Linked DNA regions of Homo sapiens. The protein of the gene in region 1 interacts with the protein of each later gene in a biochemical or structural test. Each region holds a gene or a part of one and is shown in the gene's direction. Other genes may lie near its edges.

Evidence for each region.
Region 2: the proteins of POLL (region 1) and MUTYH form a complex in vitro, tested with the Homo sapiens proteins (one study listed by IntAct).

What each region holds. Positions count from the first base shown.
Region 1 is NC_000010.11:101,585,867-101,589,778, reverse strand, and holds the start of POLL (DNA polymerase lambda), read left to right. Parts: upstream 1-1,521; 5' UTR 1,522-1,957; exon of another isoform or gene 1,958-2,372; 5' UTR 2,373-2,418; coding exon 2,419-2,533; intron 2,534-2,578; exon of another isoform or gene 2,579-2,657; intron 2,658-3,622; coding exon 3,623-3,912. Other genes in the region: protein DPCD, read right to left, coding at 1,379-1,442.
Region 2 is NC_000001.11:45,333,471-45,337,282, reverse strand, and holds part of MUTYH (adenine DNA glycosylase), read left to right. Parts: intron 1-2,315; exon of another isoform or gene 2,316-2,456; intron 2,457-2,771; coding exon of another isoform or gene 2,772-2,777; coding exon 2,778-2,892; intron 2,893-3,649; exon of another isoform or gene 3,650-3,679; coding exon of another isoform or gene 3,680-3,721; coding exon 3,722-3,812. UniProt on the Homo sapiens protein: Involved in oxidative DNA damage repair. Initiates repair of A*oxoG to C*G by removing the inappropriately paired adenine base from the DNA backbone. Possesses both adenine and 2-OH-A DNA glycosylase activities.

The sequences.
Region 1 (3,912 bases):
CAGAGTAGCTGGAATTACGGGTGCGCACCACCACACCTGGCTAATTTTTTTGTATTTTTAGTAGCGATGGGGTGGTTTCATCATGTTGGCTAGGCTGGTCTCGAACTCCTGGCCTCAAGGGATCCGCCCACTCGGCCTCCCAACATGCTGGGATTACAGGCGTGAACCACCACATCCGGCCATAATTTCCGTATTTTTTGTAGAGATGAGGTTTGGCCATGTTGCCCAAGCTGGTCTCGAACTCCTGAGCTCAAATGATCCGCCCACTTTGGCCTCCCAGAGTGCTGGAATTACGGGCGTGAGCCACTGTGCCTGACCTTATTAATTCTTTAGGACCCAGAAACATCATCACTTCTGTTGGGTCTTCCTCCAAAGAGATGTCACTTACACCTTCACTCTTTCCTACCATTTTATACAAGACTACAACCTCTATTTAACGCTTCTTATTATTTAAGTACATGTTTTTCCCAACCACTCTGAGTCCTGGGACAACATATCTTTTTCTTTCTGTTCTAGTTTAGAGCTTGGCACATAGTAAAAGTCTTCCTAAATGTTGCACGAACGAGTAAATGATTTTAATTTCCACAAACTCCAGGCTTCCCTGATTGGCCCCTGCCTGTGAACATGAGTCACCAGTTGTTATCTTGAAAGCCTCAGGAACTTCAGACGCAATTCATCCTGGCTACCCAGTGGGTCCAGAAAGGACCCAAGTGCACAAAGGGGCCGGCATCGGCCAATCCTAGGGTGGGGAAAAGTTAGGTATCCATGCCCCTGTGCCCACTTCTTCCAGGCACAGCCCTTGGTTCTTGCTCTAGCTCCCCTAAAGACACAGAAAATATTTAGAAGTTCACTTAACAAAAATATTACAGCTGGAAAGGACCTCAGAGATAACAATGGTAGTCCATCCACTTCATTTTATAGATGAGGAAAGTGAGGCCCAAACAAGTAAAGGAGCCGACTGAAGCGCCCGTGGTGAATTAATGGCACAGTCGGAACTAGAGCCCAGGCCTCTCTCCTCTCTAAAGTCTAAAACATTCTTGGATTTCAGTTTCCTCTTCTGTAAAACGGGGTGAAAATTAGCCTCTCAGGACAGTGGTGAGGAGCAAATGAGATAATGAATGTAAAAGAAATTACTATATTAGCAACAGAAATCAGAGCGGAGCGAGATGGTGTAGAGGAATCTAAGGGGTGTCCGGAGACATGTGTTCCAGTCATGTCATCTCTGTGAACCTCAGTCTCCTCATCTGCAAATGCAGGACCTGGCCCGGCTGACCGCCGAGACCCTTCCAGCTCTGCCGACCCAGGCCCTGAGGCCCTTCCCGGAGGGCCGGACCCTGAGGGAAAAAAACGAAGGAGCCCGTGGGGACCCTCGAGTTACCGTCCTGCAGCAGCGCAGTCTTCTGGGCTGTCCGCAGACTCTCCAACCAGCCCGTCACCGCCATCTTTCCCCTGCTAAGCAGCACGCCCAGCCGCTGCCATGGCAACCGTTCCAGAGGGTCACTTCCGGCTGACTCGGAAGCTATTCTGGCCATTTGCCCTCCTTCCCCCCTTCGTCCGCTCTCATTGGCTCTGCTGGTAAGTGGTCTATTCCTGCCCACCCCCGGGTGACTAGCTTGGCCAGTAGTCGACCCCACCCGGGGACCGACTCTGGGGGTTGGAGAGACTCTTGGGGCCGGGGTCGGGCACTCCAGCTTTCTTCTAGCCCCGAGCTGGGATTCCCTGGCCTGCGCCAGCTGCGTACACGGCGAGTACACCGCACCTGCCCGGGACTTCACCCGCAGCTGCGAGACTCCTCCATTCCCGGAGGGCTCCCCACACCTGCTGCGGCCGTGCCCCATCTCCCCGCAGCTGCGGCGCTGAGCACCCCCATGTCGAGAGGCTGAGACCAGGACAGGTGCAGGGCGTTCCCACTCACCCCCGAAAGTCCTCCTCCTTCCTCTGCGAGTCTGTGTTGGAGGTAGAGAAATAGTATGTGGGGTTTATGTGCAGGTCCTCCCCAGGCTCCGCTCCATCCCCTAAAGCTCCATTTCCTAGCCCAGCATCCCATTTGGTAAAGCCCTTCGAAGTGGGCCGCAGCAGGGCTGTGCTGAATCTTTAGCGCAACCCCTCTGAGGAATGGTGTCGTTTCCTACTCCTCAAAAGTACCCCCGATGGCACCAGCCTTCCCCTCATTTCCCGTAATACTCCAACTTCGAAAGGCTGGGGAGTGTGAAGCTAGGCTAAACCACTGAAGTTTAACCGGGTTTGAAGAGACCCCCTCCCCCGACCCGCTTCCCCAAACTGGGCTGCTACCCCCAAAGCCTGGTCAGGAAAGACCCTACCTCCATAGGCAAAGGGGTTGGAGGGCCTCAATTCTGGATTTCCACGTGCAGCAGCCCTGACCAACGCTCCAATAGGCCGGGATCCAGCCATACTTCAATGGATCCCAGGGGTATCTTGAAGGCATTTCCCAAGCGGCAGAAAATTCATGCTGATGCATCATCAAAAGTACTTGCAAAGATTCCTAGGAGGGAAGAGGGAGAAGAAGCAGAAGGTGAGCTGACCCAGTCTCAGAACCCTCGTGTGCTTGAACCCACAGCCTTCATGTGCTTCAGCCCTACGTTGTTTATGTCCAGAATCAGATATTGGAGCTGACTCTGCCTGTCCAGGGCCTGCAGGTCTGTTTGTATCTACCTTGTGCTAAGCTTGGTCCTGGGTCTTGGACAGGCTATTTGCTGTGTTACCTTCTTTTCTACCCGAAGACCTCTATCCATCAGAAAAGACTCCCTGGGCCCTCAGGGAATGACCAGTATAATTTTTGCCCTGAGGACTGGGACAGAAACCCCCCTCCATTACCCAGGCTTGTTGTTAGTTGTTTTGCAGCCAAATTGGCAAATAAATGGCAGAGGCTTTGGAGGCAGGGTTGTCGGGTCTGTCAGACTGTAAGGGCAAGAAACGCGCTTTGTTGAAAGAATAAATGATAAAGGATTCAAAGTATGGAGAGAGGCTGGGCGCGGTGGCTCTTGCCTGTAATCTCAGCACTTTGGGAGGCCGAGGCAGGCAGATCACCTGTGCTCAGGAGTTCGAGACCAGCTTGGGCAACATGGCGAAACCCTGTCTCTACTAAAAATACAAAAAATTAGCCAGGCATGGTGGCACACGCCGGTAATCCCAGCTACTCGGGAGGCTGAGGCATGAGAATCGCTTGAACTCGGGAGATGGAGGTTGCAGTGAGCCAAGACGATGCCACTGTACTCCAGCCTGGGCGACAGAGTGAGACTGTCTCCAAACAAAAACAAAACAAAAGAAAACAAAACAAACAAACAAAAAACAAAGTAAGAAGGGAGGAGGCATTCATTAAACAAATATTTACAGGTTACTTACAATGTGCCAGACACTTCTAGATTGCACCAAGGAACAGGACGTATGAAAATCCTTGTCCCTTACATTCAAGTGCTGGCCTGTGAGAAAATTTGCTATATGTAGAAGGAAAGCTGTCTGGATGGAAGGGAAATGCTTATTTTCAGGGTAGGGGACTGTGAACACGTCATTCAGATCATGTTAGAAGTTATGTCGTGGCCAGGGGGTGGCAGATAAAAATTAAAAAGTTACAACAGTAGTCATCTGGATGTTCCTTCCACAGAGTGGCTGAGCTCCCTTCGGGCCCATGTTGTGCGCACTGGCATTGGACGAGCCCGGGCAGAACTCTTTGAGAAGCAGATTGTTCAGCATGGCGGCCAGCTATGCCCTGCCCAGGGCCCAGGTGTCACTCACATTGTGGTGGATGAAGGCATGGACTATGAGCGAGCCCTCCGCCTTCTCAGACTACCCCAGCTGCCCCCGGGTGCTCAGCTGGTGAAGTCAGCCTGGCTGAGCTTGTGCCTTCAGGAGAGGAGGCTGGTGGATGTAGCTGGATTCAGCATCTTCATCCCC
Region 2 (3,812 bases), on another chromosome or scaffold:
CTTGGAGTTGGGGTGGGGTATTGGGGTGGGAGGATTGCTTGAGCCGAGGAAGCAGAGGTTGCAGTGAGCCAAGATCACACCACTGCACTCCAGCCTGGGTGACAGAGTGAGACCCCATCCCAAAAAAAAAAAAAAGAATGGGAAACCATTGAAGGTTATAAGGAAGGAAGTGACGTGATCTGGAAAAGATTCCTTTGCTCTTTGGAGAATAGATTGTAGAATGAATGTGGAAGTAAGCAGGTTTGGTGAAGGAAGTTTGGCTATGAAGGGAAGGAGGGTGGGATTTGATTGTGTTACGAGCCAAGGGGAAAATCTTTCCCTTTGCCCTCTGAAGATCTGCTGAAAAATCAGCTCACAAAAGGCAGGTTAACTGGAGAAAAGGCATACAAATTTATTAACATGCACATTGGGAGAACCATAAAGTGATTACCCATCTCCCTACAGAGTTCGTGAGTTTATATACCATCTGGCAAAACAGATTATGGGAGGGGTGTCTCACGTGTGTCCATGTGAAGAGACCACCAAACAGGCTTTGTCTGAGCAACAAGGCTGTTTATTTCACCTGGGTGCAGACAGGCTGAGTCTGAAAAAAAGGAGTCAGCAAAGGGTGGTGGAATTATCATTAGTTCTTATAGGTTTTGGGATAGGCATTGGAGTTAAGAGCAATGTTTTGGGGGCAGGGGGTGGATCTCACAAAGTACATTCTCAAGGGTGGGGAGATTATAAAGAACCTTCTTAAGGGTGGGGGGGAGATTACCAAGTACATTGATCAGTTAGCGTGGGGCAGAAACAAATCACAGTGGTGGAATGTGATCAGTTAAGGCTATTTTCACTTCTTTTGTAGATCTTCAGTTGCTTCAGGCCATCTGGATGTATAAGTGCAGGTTACTGAGGATATGATGGCTTAGCTTGGGCTCAGAGGCCTGACAAGGGGTAGAAGAGAAATTCTGTTTTTCTGTTTTTGTAGAGACGGGGTCTTGCTATGTTGCAAGCCTAATCTCGAACTCCTGGGCTCAAGTAATCCTCCTGCCTTGGCCTCCCAAAGTGCTGGGATTACAGGCCTGAGCCAGCATGTCCAGCTCTATTTGTTTTTAAATAAACCGAACTTTGGCCAGAAGGAGATTCTGTTGAAGGGCAATAAAGGATTACTAGAGAGAATGGAATGGGGACAGAGGTTGACTTGTTAATAGTTCTCTTTGGAATTTGAGTGATCCTGAGGTACACAATACCTGTGAAAGGGTTTGTTCAGGTGTGGTTACATGTTAGTCTTATTGGGAGGGGAAGAAAAAACAAGTATTCTTTTTAGTGAGTTTGGACTTTAGGCAGATAAAGAGTTCCAGAGAACAACTTTATCCTGGCTTTGGGAGAGTCTGGGGTGGAAGGATCAGAGAGACCTTGCGGCTTCTTGAGTTCAGCATGTCAGAGGGCCATATTTTGGGGTATTGGTTTCTTTTCTTTTCTTTTTTTTTGAGACAGAGTCTTGCTCTGTCTTTGTTGCCCAGGCTGTGCAGTGGCATGATCTCAGCTCACTGCAAGCTCTGCCTCCTGGGTTCAAGCGAGCACGTCTGGCTAATTTTTTTGGATTTTTAGTAGAGATGGGGTTTCGCCATGTTGGCCAGGCTGGTCTCGAACTCCTGGCCTCAAGTGATCTGCCTGCCTTAGCCTCCCGCAGTGTTGGGATTACAGGCATGAGCCACCGTGCCTGGCCTGGGGTATTAGTTTCTGAGTTCCAACAGTTAGACGGGATTGGAGGAGCAGGACCCTGAAGAGGAGGAGGGTAAGACAGTGCAAATGGAGGTAGATTTGAAGTTGGTTTTTTTTTTTCTGAAGGAGGAGGCAAGCTCTTTTGATGAAAATGAGGTGGTAAAGTCAAAGGTTTGGGGGGAGAGTTTGATACAGAGGCTTAGCAGGGACTGCATTTTATCACAGTATAAGAATGCTGGTCGTGGATTTGAAAGAACAAGTCGCTTAATCTCCATAAACCTCAATTTCCTTATAACTAAGGTGGAGGTGATACTAGTACATACCTCATAGAGTCACCAGGAGATTGAGAGATCCGGTAAAGCTCTTCATGGGGTCTGACATAGAGTAGGCACTCACAAAATATCAACTAATTTTAGCTGTTAGAGAAAAGGCGGCCATTATAACAGTTAGGGAGCAGTGAAAATCAACCAGGCACATTTTCTCATTGTTGATGGTCAGCCACCTATGGTTTACTAGATTAGGAATAAAAATAGCTAATCTCTGTTCTCCCACTGATTTGCCATCTGTTCTCAGACAGATCTTTTGTCCCTCTGATCCTTGGTTTCTTCTAGGATAAAATGAAGGTTTTGGACTTAATGACTACTACAGGCTGTTTCAGTGTAACCATGCTACATCTCTAAGAGGCAGAGAAACCGCCTACCCCCATTCTCCCAGACACACCTAAACAACCCCTATCCACACACACAGTCACAGTAAGCATCAGAGATACACAAATGCTCCCAAACAGGAGGCTTTCATCCTTGACCCATCCCAGCCCTGGCCTCACAGTCTTTGCATGTCTCCAGGGCTGTAACGCCGGCCCCCTTGAGGCCACTTGCTCAGCTATACTAGTTGTATCTCAGTGCTGCAGCCAGCCAAGAGTAAACCCGTGAGCATCTTGAGAGTGCTTGAGAGAAGCTGGACCCCATGTGAATGGTGGATGAGAGGGAGATAGCTATCACCCTTGGAAGGCCTCAAAATTTGGCCTCATTGTGACTGACTGCTTTGGCTGGGTCTTTTTGTTTCAGGCCATCATGAGGAAGCCACGAGCAGCCGTGGGAAGTGGTCACAGGAAGCAGGCAGCCAGCCAGGAAGGGAGGCAGAAGCATGCTAAGAACAACAGTCAGGCCAAGCCTTCTGCCTGTGATGGTAAGGAACTAGGTTGTGGCCCAAGGCTCATTGGCCATGAAAGGCAGATTCAGGCTGGGAAGGGATTGTGATACGTATCAAGACATTAAGAGACTTACTAAGGGCCAGGTGCGGTGGCTCACACCTGTAATCCCAGCACTTTGGGAGGCCGAGGCAGGTGGATCCCTTGAGCCCAGGAGTTTGAGACCAGCTTGGGTAACATGGCGAAATCCCCTCTCTATGCTCGCGTGGTGGTGAGCGTCTGTAGTCCCAGCTACTCGGGAAGCTGAGGTGACAGGATCGCTTGAGCCTGGAAGGCAGAAGTTGCACTGAGTCAAGATAATGCAACTGCATTTCAGTCTGGGCAACAGAGCCAGACTCTTGTCTCAAAACAAAAGAGACTCACTGAGGGTGTAATTCTGACTGTATTGCTGTGTGACATTGGGACAATTGCTCTGAATGGCTGCTTTCTTACCAGTAAAATGGAGCAGTAGTTCAGCATTTCCTCCCTCATGTGGCTTTCATGGGACCAAATGAGTTTATGAGCCTGAAAGTGTTTTGTGAATAGGAAGGTCCTGCACCAGTATACATTCTAGCTGGCTAAAACTATTAGGTTTTCATTATGGCTCAGAGACAAGCCAGTAGTACCACCCTGAGAAAATTAAGGCCAGAAACTTAGCCACAGCTACACACAATTACATAACTCTGGTCTGACTCCAGCTCCAAAGCTTAAGGGGGTTAGTTGGGGGAAGCCCTAAGTGGGAGCATACTGCCACAGGCTGCTGTGTCCCAAGACCCTGATGCACAGCCTGTGCAGGGATGATTGCTGAGTGTCCTGGGGCCCCAGCAGGCCTGGCCAGGCAGCCGGAAGAGGTGGTATTGCAGGCCTCTGTCTCCTCATACCATCTATTCAGAGACGTAGCTGAAGTCACAGCCTTCCG